Linked DNA regions of Homo sapiens: region 2 is linked to region 1. The links come from fine-mapping of genetic effects on gene expression. A gene starts in region 1. The other region holds a variant in brackets. All regions are shown on one strand. Distances are from middle to middle.

Evidence for each region. PIP is the estimated chance that this variant, and not a neighbour inherited with it, causes the effect.
Region 2: its variant is the best candidate, but not a certain one, in a credible set for the expression of TFRC in whole blood (TOPMed, PIP 0.86).

What each region holds. Positions count from the first base shown.
Region 1 is chr3:196,080,416-196,084,802 of GRCh38, forward strand. It overlaps TFRC (transferrin receptor), which reads right to left and starts at 1,675. Exons shown (of 19, transcript NM_001128148.3): 1 at 1,628-1,675. RefSeq lists an enhancer at 1-426 and silencers at 1,308-1,607, 1,658-1,997.
Region 2 is chr3:196,106,339-196,110,725 of GRCh38, forward strand. No RefSeq gene overlaps it. Among named protein-coding and RNA genes, the nearest start is that of TFRC, 26 kb to the left of the region's middle. The variant A/G (reference allele first, on the strand shown) is at 2,050.

The DNA of each region.
Region 1 (4,387 bases):
TTTAGTAGAGACAGGATTTCACCATGTTAGTCAGACTGGACTCGAACTCCTGACCTTAGGTGATCCGCCTGCCTTGGCCTCCCAAAGTGCTGGGATTACAGGCGGGAGCCAATGCGCCCAGCCGAGGGTCATTTTTAACTAGCATTGTGATCGATTCAGGTTTAGCTGGGAATCTTGCTCCATGACATTTAAATACATTATCAGAGGCAAGTAACTGCCTCGCCTTAGGGCGGAGTTAGCCAAACTGCTGTCTATCTAACAATCTTCAACACAGGCTAGGTTTACAGCCACCATTACTTGATAAGAACATCCAAAGGAAATTGAAGGATGCTATGCTATATATAACCTTGCAAAATCGATGACAAAAATTATCTTAACTCTGAGTTTTCTTGAGAAGCATATTGTAACCCAAAATTCAGGGCCGGGGGGCGGGGGGAACCAGCAGGGTCCACAAGTACTCTAGACAGCCTAACCTTAATTTTCACAGTAAGCTTAGCATATAAGCATGGGGTAGCCAAATACAATTTCCTACTTTAATCCTCTTATCAACGGGGAAGAAAATGGAAAAAGCTGCAGAATCCAGTCCCCCGGGTAAGTGAGGTCTCTACAAGCAGTAAGCAGAGGGAAAGCGTTATCCGAAAAGAGCCGAATCAGAATGTATTTTCTTACCCACCCTCCCAACCTTAAAAGAACTGTCCAGCAGAATGTGACACAATCGGCCTCTCCGGCGCCCATCAATCCAGCACAGCCCTCTGACCACACCGCTAATCTCCAAGTATCTTTCACAAATAAGTCACTCCTATGGCTCCCGTCTTGTAGTGAGAACTGCTAGCAATATTCTTAATGTGAACACCTGCGGCGTTCAGTCGGATTCTGCCTTGAGAAAACAGAATCCACACACAAGGCGAACAGGCAGAGCATGGCAAGATCAGGTTGTACCAGAGCCGAAGGGTAAGTTTACAGAAACCCGTATCTAATTAATGCCTGTAACACGCTAGTAACCGAATCGGGGACAGCTTTGTCCCTTTCCGCAGTGAGAACGGGGCCCGCCCGGAGCCCGGGGAACCGAAGGTTTAGGAGCCCAAGGTCACCCACGAATCCCAGCCGTTCCCTGGGGCGACTTCCTGGAGCAGCCACGTGTTCCCCCGGCGCCGCACGCCGCGCAGCTGCACCTTGGCTGCGCCCGCGCTCCCGGACCCGCAGCCCGGAGCCGGCGCACTAGGGCCTGCGGCCTTCAAGGGCGAGGACCCGAAGTCCCCGGGGCTGAGAGCGACAGTGGGGGTACACCTGGTCTCGTCATTCGTCGCTCTGTGACCGAGGAGGCGGGCAAGAAGGCAGAGAGAAGGGAAGGGACGAGAGGCGAAGGGACGAGAGGCGCAGGGACGCCTCTGCGCACAGCCGCCGACCCCGTGTACCTGCAGCCGCTCGAGGCGCCGCCACAGCCCCTTCCCCACAGGCTCGCGGCCCCGCTCCATCCCGGCCGCCCCGCCTGGGGCCGCGACCGCTTTCCCGCTCCCCGTGCGGCTCCCTATGGCTGCTGGACAGCACCGGAGCGGCCGCTCCAGCCAGCCCCGCAGGATGAAGGGAGGACACGAGGGTCGGTGTAGTTCTAGAAGCCCGCACTCACACTAGCGCGTCCTCCGTCCCGAGCCGCCACCCGATATCCCGACGCTCTGAGGGGATGGCGGCCCCTAACCGGCGGTTTATAGCCTGGCCCCGCCCCCGGCCCCCAGGGGGGCTGTGCGTCACTTCCTGAGGCACGTACGCTCGCGAGGTGCTCTGACAGATCGCCCGGGGGGCGGGGATGCGCGCGCAGCGGGCGGGGCCCTATGCGGAGGGCGCTGCGGGCGAGGCGAAGGCCAAGGGAAAAGGCGCCAAGGCAGCAGGTGCCCCGAGGAGCCGCGCGATGGGCGCACTGGCCTCTGCCTCGGCGCCTTCCTCCACCCTGGTAGCCTGGCAGCCTCCGCCTGACCTTGACCAACCTCCAGTCCCTGCAGTGCTAGGTCCAATCTGTTGGCGTTGACGCTTAAATGTTGGATATTGCACTGCGGCAGTGCCTTGAAATGTACGTGCAGGATGGAATGTTAGGTAACTATTAAAGCCACTCTTGTGAAGATGTATTTTGCAGCCTCAGAAATACAAAAAGGAAAAGAAAAGCAAAATGCAAATTTTTATTCAGAATGTATACAAGCTGCACTTTAACCAAGACTAGCGGAGTGCTTTGCGTAATGTTTAATGCATGAGGGAATAAAAGGGAAAATAGAAACAAGTGACTTAATAGGGTGATAGGATTGTAGATTAACTTTCGTTTTCATTGCCATCGCTGTTATTGGATTGTGCAATGAATAACAAATAAATAAAATTCAATTCTTGTCACTGTTTAAACTCTTTCCAAACAATCACACCCTCTCCCTCCCTCTGGTCAGTAACCAGCAGGCCAGGGAGGTAGTAGCTACAATGCAAGAAAGCAACCCATACCTTAAAAAGCATTGCACATAAACTGACCTTCAGGCCCGTAGGGACACAGAACAGCCCTTTAAGAAGCAAATCCGTTTCTGGGCCTTGGGCTTTTACTCTTCCCTTTATTTCTTCTGCTCTAAGATAGAGAAAGTACTTGGGATTCTCACCGCCTTTCTCTTTACTCCCATTCTCTAAAATCTCTCTCCCCAAAGAGAAGTGTTTAAAAGTCATATGAGTTGCCAGGCGCGGTGGCTCACGCCTGCAATCCTAACACTTTGGGAGGCCGAGGTGAGCGGATCACGAGGTCTGGAGTTCGAGACCAGCCTGACCAATATGGTGAAACCCCATCTCTACTAAAAAAATTTCAAAAAAAATTAGCCAGGCATAGTGGCACGCGCCTGTAATCCCAGCTACTCAGGAGGCTGAGGCAGAAGAATCGCTTGAACCCAAGAGGCGGAGGTTGCAGTGAGCCAAGATCGCGCCATTGCACTCCAACCTGGGCGACAGAGCAAGATTCCATCTCAAAAAAAAAAAAAAGTCATATGAGCAGGAGCATTGCTGCACCTTTAATGATCTAATCAGGAAAAGGTTAAGGATGCACATCCACAGAGGGCCTACCTTAACATTCAGACACCAGGCCTGCTCCCCTGTGGTGTTCCTTCTTTATTTCTTTAATTATTAATTTTATTTATTTTTATTATTTTTACTTTTAAGACAGTGTCTTGCTCTGTCACCCTGGCTGGAGTACAGTGGCATGATCTCGGGCTCACTGCAACCTCTGCCTCCGGATTCAAGCGATTCTCCTGCCTCAGCCTCCCAAGTAGCTGGGACTACAGGTGTGTGCCACCATGCCAGGCTAATTTTTGTATTTTGAGGAGTGACGGGATTTTATCATGTTGGCCAGGCTTGTCTCGAATTCCTGACCTCAGGTGATCTGCCCACCTTGGCCTCCTAAAATGTTGGGATAACAGGCATGAGCCACCATGCCCAGCCTATTTATTTTTTATTTTTAATTTGACGCAGGGTTTGCTATGTAGCCCAGACTAGTCTTGAACTCCTGGGCTCAAACAATCCTCCTGCCTCCGGTCTCCCAAAGTGCTGGGATTATAGGCATGAGCTAACATGCCTGGCTTTCTGCCTTTCCTTGACTGAAGTATCTTTTAAAAAGAAACAAACAATGCTGGTATTTGCAGGTGAAAATCTTATAGCCTCATGGAGGACATAGGTTTAGGTGGCCAGATGCGATGGCTAATCCCTGTAATCCCAACACTTTGGGAGACTGAGGCAGGTGGATCTTCTGAGGTCAGGAGTTCAAGACCAGCCTGGCCAGCATGATAAAACCCCATCACAACTAAAAATACAAAATTTAGTCTGGCGTGGTGGCGCACACCTGTAGTCCCAGCTACTCCAGAGGCTGAGGCAGGAGAATCGTTTGAACCCGGGAGGGGGGTGGCTGCAGTGAGCTGAGATCACACCACTGCCCTTCAGCCTGGGCAGCAGAGCAAGACTCTGTCTCAAAAAAAAAAAAAAAAAAGAAAGAAAGAAAGAAAAGAAAAGAAAGAAAAATATGTTTAGGAGACATTTAGAGGCCAGGACCATTTGGACATGAAAATTCAAATCTCAAAAATTTATATTCACTAAAATAAAACCATAAACGTGACACTAAAGAGGCTATCAATTATATTTTTATTTTTATGCTGTTATTAGTATTAATAGACACTGCAATTAAAGTCCACTTATTAACACTTTTACTATTTATTTATTTATTTTTAAACAGTCTTACTCTGTCACCCAGGCTGGAGTGCAGTGGCGCCATCTCGGCTCAATGCAACCTCCACCTGGGTTCAAGCGATTCTCCTGCCTCAGCCTCCCGAGTAGCTGGGATTACAGGCACGTGCCACCACGCATGGCTAATTTTTTGTATTTT
Region 2 (4,387 bases), 26 kb after region 1:
ATAGTTGCAGAAAAGGGAACAGAAGAAAAAATAGTTTAAAAAACCTTTTTGTTTTTCCATTAAATATTCTTTAATAAATATGTACTACTTTGAACATAAAAAATGCTTTTCTTTAAACTATGAGAATAGAAAATGCTTATTTGTTTGAAATGTAACCCTGGCTTTCTCTTTCTACTGTATTCTACCCATTACTATTCTATATTTTGTATTTTATTATATTATTACTATTTTTGAGACAGGATCTCACTCTGTCACCCAGGCTGAGTGCAGTGGCATGATCACAGCTCACTGCAGCCTTGACCCCCCCAGGCTCAAGTGATCCTCCCACCTCAGCCTCCTGAGCAGCTGGGGCTATAGGTGAGTGACACCACACCTGGATAATTTTTTGTTTTTTGTAGACAGGGTCTTACCATATTGCCCAGGCTGGTCTTGAACTCCTGGGCTCAACTGATCCTTCCACCTCAGCCTCCTGATTAGCTGGGACTATAGGTGCGTGCCACCACATTTGGTTCATTTCTTATGTTTTGTACACAGGGTCTCGCCATACTGCCCAGGCTGGTCTTCAACTCCTGGGCTCAAGTGATCCTCTCACCTCAGTCTCCCAAAGTGTTGGGATTACAGGTGCGAGCCGCTACGCTCAGCCTTTTTTATTTTTATTTATTTATTTATTTGAGTCAGAATCTAGCTCTGTCACCCAGGCTGGAGTGCAATGGTGAGATCTTGGCTCACTGCAACCTCCGCATCCCGGGTTCAAGCAATTCTCCTGCCTCAGCCTCCAGAGTAGCTGGGATTAGAGGTGCCCGCCACCACTCCCAGCTAGTGTGTGTGTGTGTTTAGTAAAGACAAGGTTTCACCATATTGGTCAGGCTGGTCTTGAACTCCTGACCTCGTGATCCACCCACCTCTGCCTCCCAAAGTGCTGGGATTACAGGGGTGAGCCACCACACCCAGCCAGCCTATTTTATTTTATTTTATTTTGAGACAGGGTCTCGCTCTGGTGCTGGAGTGCAGTGGCATGAGGTTGCTTACTGCAGCCCCAACCTTTTGCGCTCGAGTGATCCTCCCACCTCAGCCTTCTGAGTAGCTGGGATCATAGGCACGTCCTACCATGCCCAGCCAATTTTTAGTTGTTGTTTACAGACACAGTGTCTCTTCCTAATGCAGTCTCCCTTAGTATCTCACTGGTCTTTAAGTAAAAAAGAAAAAATTTAAAAATTGGAATAACAAAAGATATGTGGTCTCCCTGTGTTCCCCAAGCTGGTCTTGAACTCCTGGGCTCAAGCAATCCTCCTGCTTCGGCCTCCCAAAGTGCTAGGATTACAGGTGTGAGACACTGCACCTGGCCTACTCTTCTATAATAAGAGTCTCATCTTTCTCTTATGTTGAACGTGATACAGATACTGGGTTCTTTTTAACTTTTTTTTTTATTTGAGATGGAGTCTCGCTCTGTCGCCCAGGCTGGAGTGCAGCGGCGCGATCTCGGCTCACTGCAAGCTCCACCTCCTAGGTTCACGCCATTCTCCTGCCTCAGCCTCCCAAGTAGCTGGGATTACAGGCGCCCGCTGCCACGCCCGGCTAATTTTTTGTATTTTTAGTAGAGACGGGGTTTCGCTGTGTTAGCCAGGATGGTCTCGATCTCCTGACCTCTTGATCCGCCCGCCTCGGCCTCCCAAAGTGCTGGGATTACAGGAGTGAGCCACCGCGCCTGTCATCTTTTTAACATTTTTTAAGGAATTCTTATTTGCCATGAGCCAAGGAATGCACAGAGACTAGATTCCCATGGACAGCTCACTCCTACCGAACACATACAATGGGACACACCTGTGCTGGGTGAAAGGCGCAGCCTAGAGGGCTGGCAGGTGTTGGGTGAGGCTCAGGTTTCAGGCTGAGGGGAGGAGGGTCAGCTGGCAGATCCTCAGCAACTCTGGCAGCCTCACAGGGCCACAGCCCCCCTGGAGCTCTTGGTTCCCCCAGGGTCAAACCAGGTCTCAGTCATGGAGCTAGGATCAAGCTTTCCTACCCTCCTCAGTAGGAGGCCCCCTTCTTCCC[A/G]GGAGGGAGAGCTAGGGGAAGGGAGATAGTGGAGGGTGAGGGAACGGCATTCGCATTTGTAAGCAGTGCCCTGGAGCTGCATGCTGGAGATAAGAGAAGGCCCCTCCCGAGGCTGGGAGCAGAGGGAGCTGCAGCCTGAGGCTTGGGCAGGACAGGTGAACCCAGGTTTCCCAACCACTGAATCACCCTTTGCCCCACCACGCACATGCGCTCTTGCGTGTGGACGCACGTGCACACACACGCACACCCCACAGCTTCCACGTGGCAATGTGTCTAAGCCCAAGATCCTGGACAGCCCAGACACAGAACTGCCATGAGAACCCACAGCAGTCCCACTCGGGAGCCCTCATCAGCACTGCTGAGTGCCAACCGAACAACAGTGAGAACGAGAACACAGACCCTTATCCTGGGACCACACAGTTGGCTTCTCAAGGCTTCATGAAATTCTTCTTTTTATTTTTTCTTTGAGACACAGTCTTGCTCTGTCACCTAGGCTGGAGTGCAGTGGCGTGATCCTGGCTTACTGCAACCTCTGCTTCCCAGGCTCAAACAATTCTCATGCCTCAGCCTCCCAAGTAGCAGGGACTACAGGCATGTGTCACCACACCCAGCTAATTTTGGGGGTATTTTTTCTTCTTTTTTTTTTGAGACAGAGTCTCACACCATCACCCAGGCTGGAGCGCAGTTGTGCGATCTCGGCTCACTGCAACCTCTGTCTCCCAGCTTCAAGCAATTCTCCTGCCTCAGCCTCCCAAGTAGCTGGGATTACAGGCACCTGCCACCACCTGCTAATTTTTTGTATTTTTAGTAGAGACGGGGTTTCACTATGTTGGCCAAGCTGGTCTCAAACTCCTGACCTCGTGATCCACATGCCTCAGCCTCCCAAAGTGCTGGGATTACAGGCATGAGCCACCGCGCCCAGCCTAATTTTTGTATTTTTAGTAGAGATGGGGTTTCTCCATGTTGGCCAGGCTGGTCTCAAACTCCTGGCCTCAAGTGATCCGCCCACCTTGGCCTCCCAAAGTGCTGGGATTACAAGTGTAAGCCACTGTGCCTGGCCTAAATTCTTCTTTAGCATCATGCAATCTGCCTTAATTGAGAAATGTTATCACGAAAACCCACATGAAACTCAATATTGCACTTACTGTAGGAGCTATTATTGGAAGCTAGTGATCCTGAGAACTTGCCTAGAGTTTCAGTGCAAGAAAAGGCTGGCTTCGGCTGGGTGCAGTGGCTCTCGCCTGTAATCCTAGCACTCTGGGAGGCCGAGGCGGGTGGATCATGAGGTCAGGAGATCGAGACCATCCTGGCTAACATGATGAAACCCCGTCTCTACTAAAAATACAAAAAAAAAAAAAAAAAAAAAAAAAAGCTGGGCATGGTGGCGAGTGCCTGTAGTCCCAGCTACTCGGGAGGCTGAGGCAGGAGAATGGCGTGAACCCGGGAGGCGGAGTTTGCAGTGAGCCAAGATCGTGCCACGGCACTCCAGCCTGGGCGACAGGGCAAGACTCCGTCTCAAAAAAAGAAAAAAAAAAGAAAAGGCTGGCTTCTCCTGATTAATGGTCATCTTATTTTTGACACAATTTGTAATAACTTTTTTTTTTGAGACAGAATCTTGCTCTGTTGCCCAGGCTGGAGTGCAGTGGCGTGATCTGGGCTCACTGCAAGCTCTGCCTCCTGGGTTCACACCATTCTCCTGCCTCAGCCTCCTGGGTAGCTGGGACTACAGGCACCCGCCACCATGCCTGGCTACTTTTTTGTATTTTTTAGTAGAGACGGGGTTTCACCATGTTAGCCAGGATGGCCTCGGTCTCCTGACCTTGTGATCCACCCGCCTCGGCCTCCCCGAGTGCTGGGATCACAGGCGTGAGCCACCGCACCTGCCACGTAGAGCCTATTTTCTTATCCATAAAACAATACCTACTTCACGGGGTTGTTCTGAGGATTAAGACAATCTATGTAAAATAATTAGCCAATACACAACCTATAGCATGCTCAGTAAATGGTAGCTGGTATAACAATTATGGGTTTCTTGTTTGTTTTTTTGTTTGAGATGCAGTCTGGCTGTTGCCCAGGCTGGTCTTAAATTCCTGGGCTCAAGCAGTCCTCCCGCCTCGGCCTCCCAAAGTGTTGGGATTATGAGCACGAGCCACCACATCCGGATAAAGGAAGTCCCTGTCCGGGATCACCTGAGGCTAAAGAGAGCTGCGTCACCCAACGTCATGCTCCCCCTAGGGACAGCTGCATTCCTGACAAGGGCCATCCCAGCTCCAGAGAGTCACTCCTATTGAGAGATTTGCTGAGGCCTTTGTTTCCTGAGCTCCAGGCCGACGTCCCC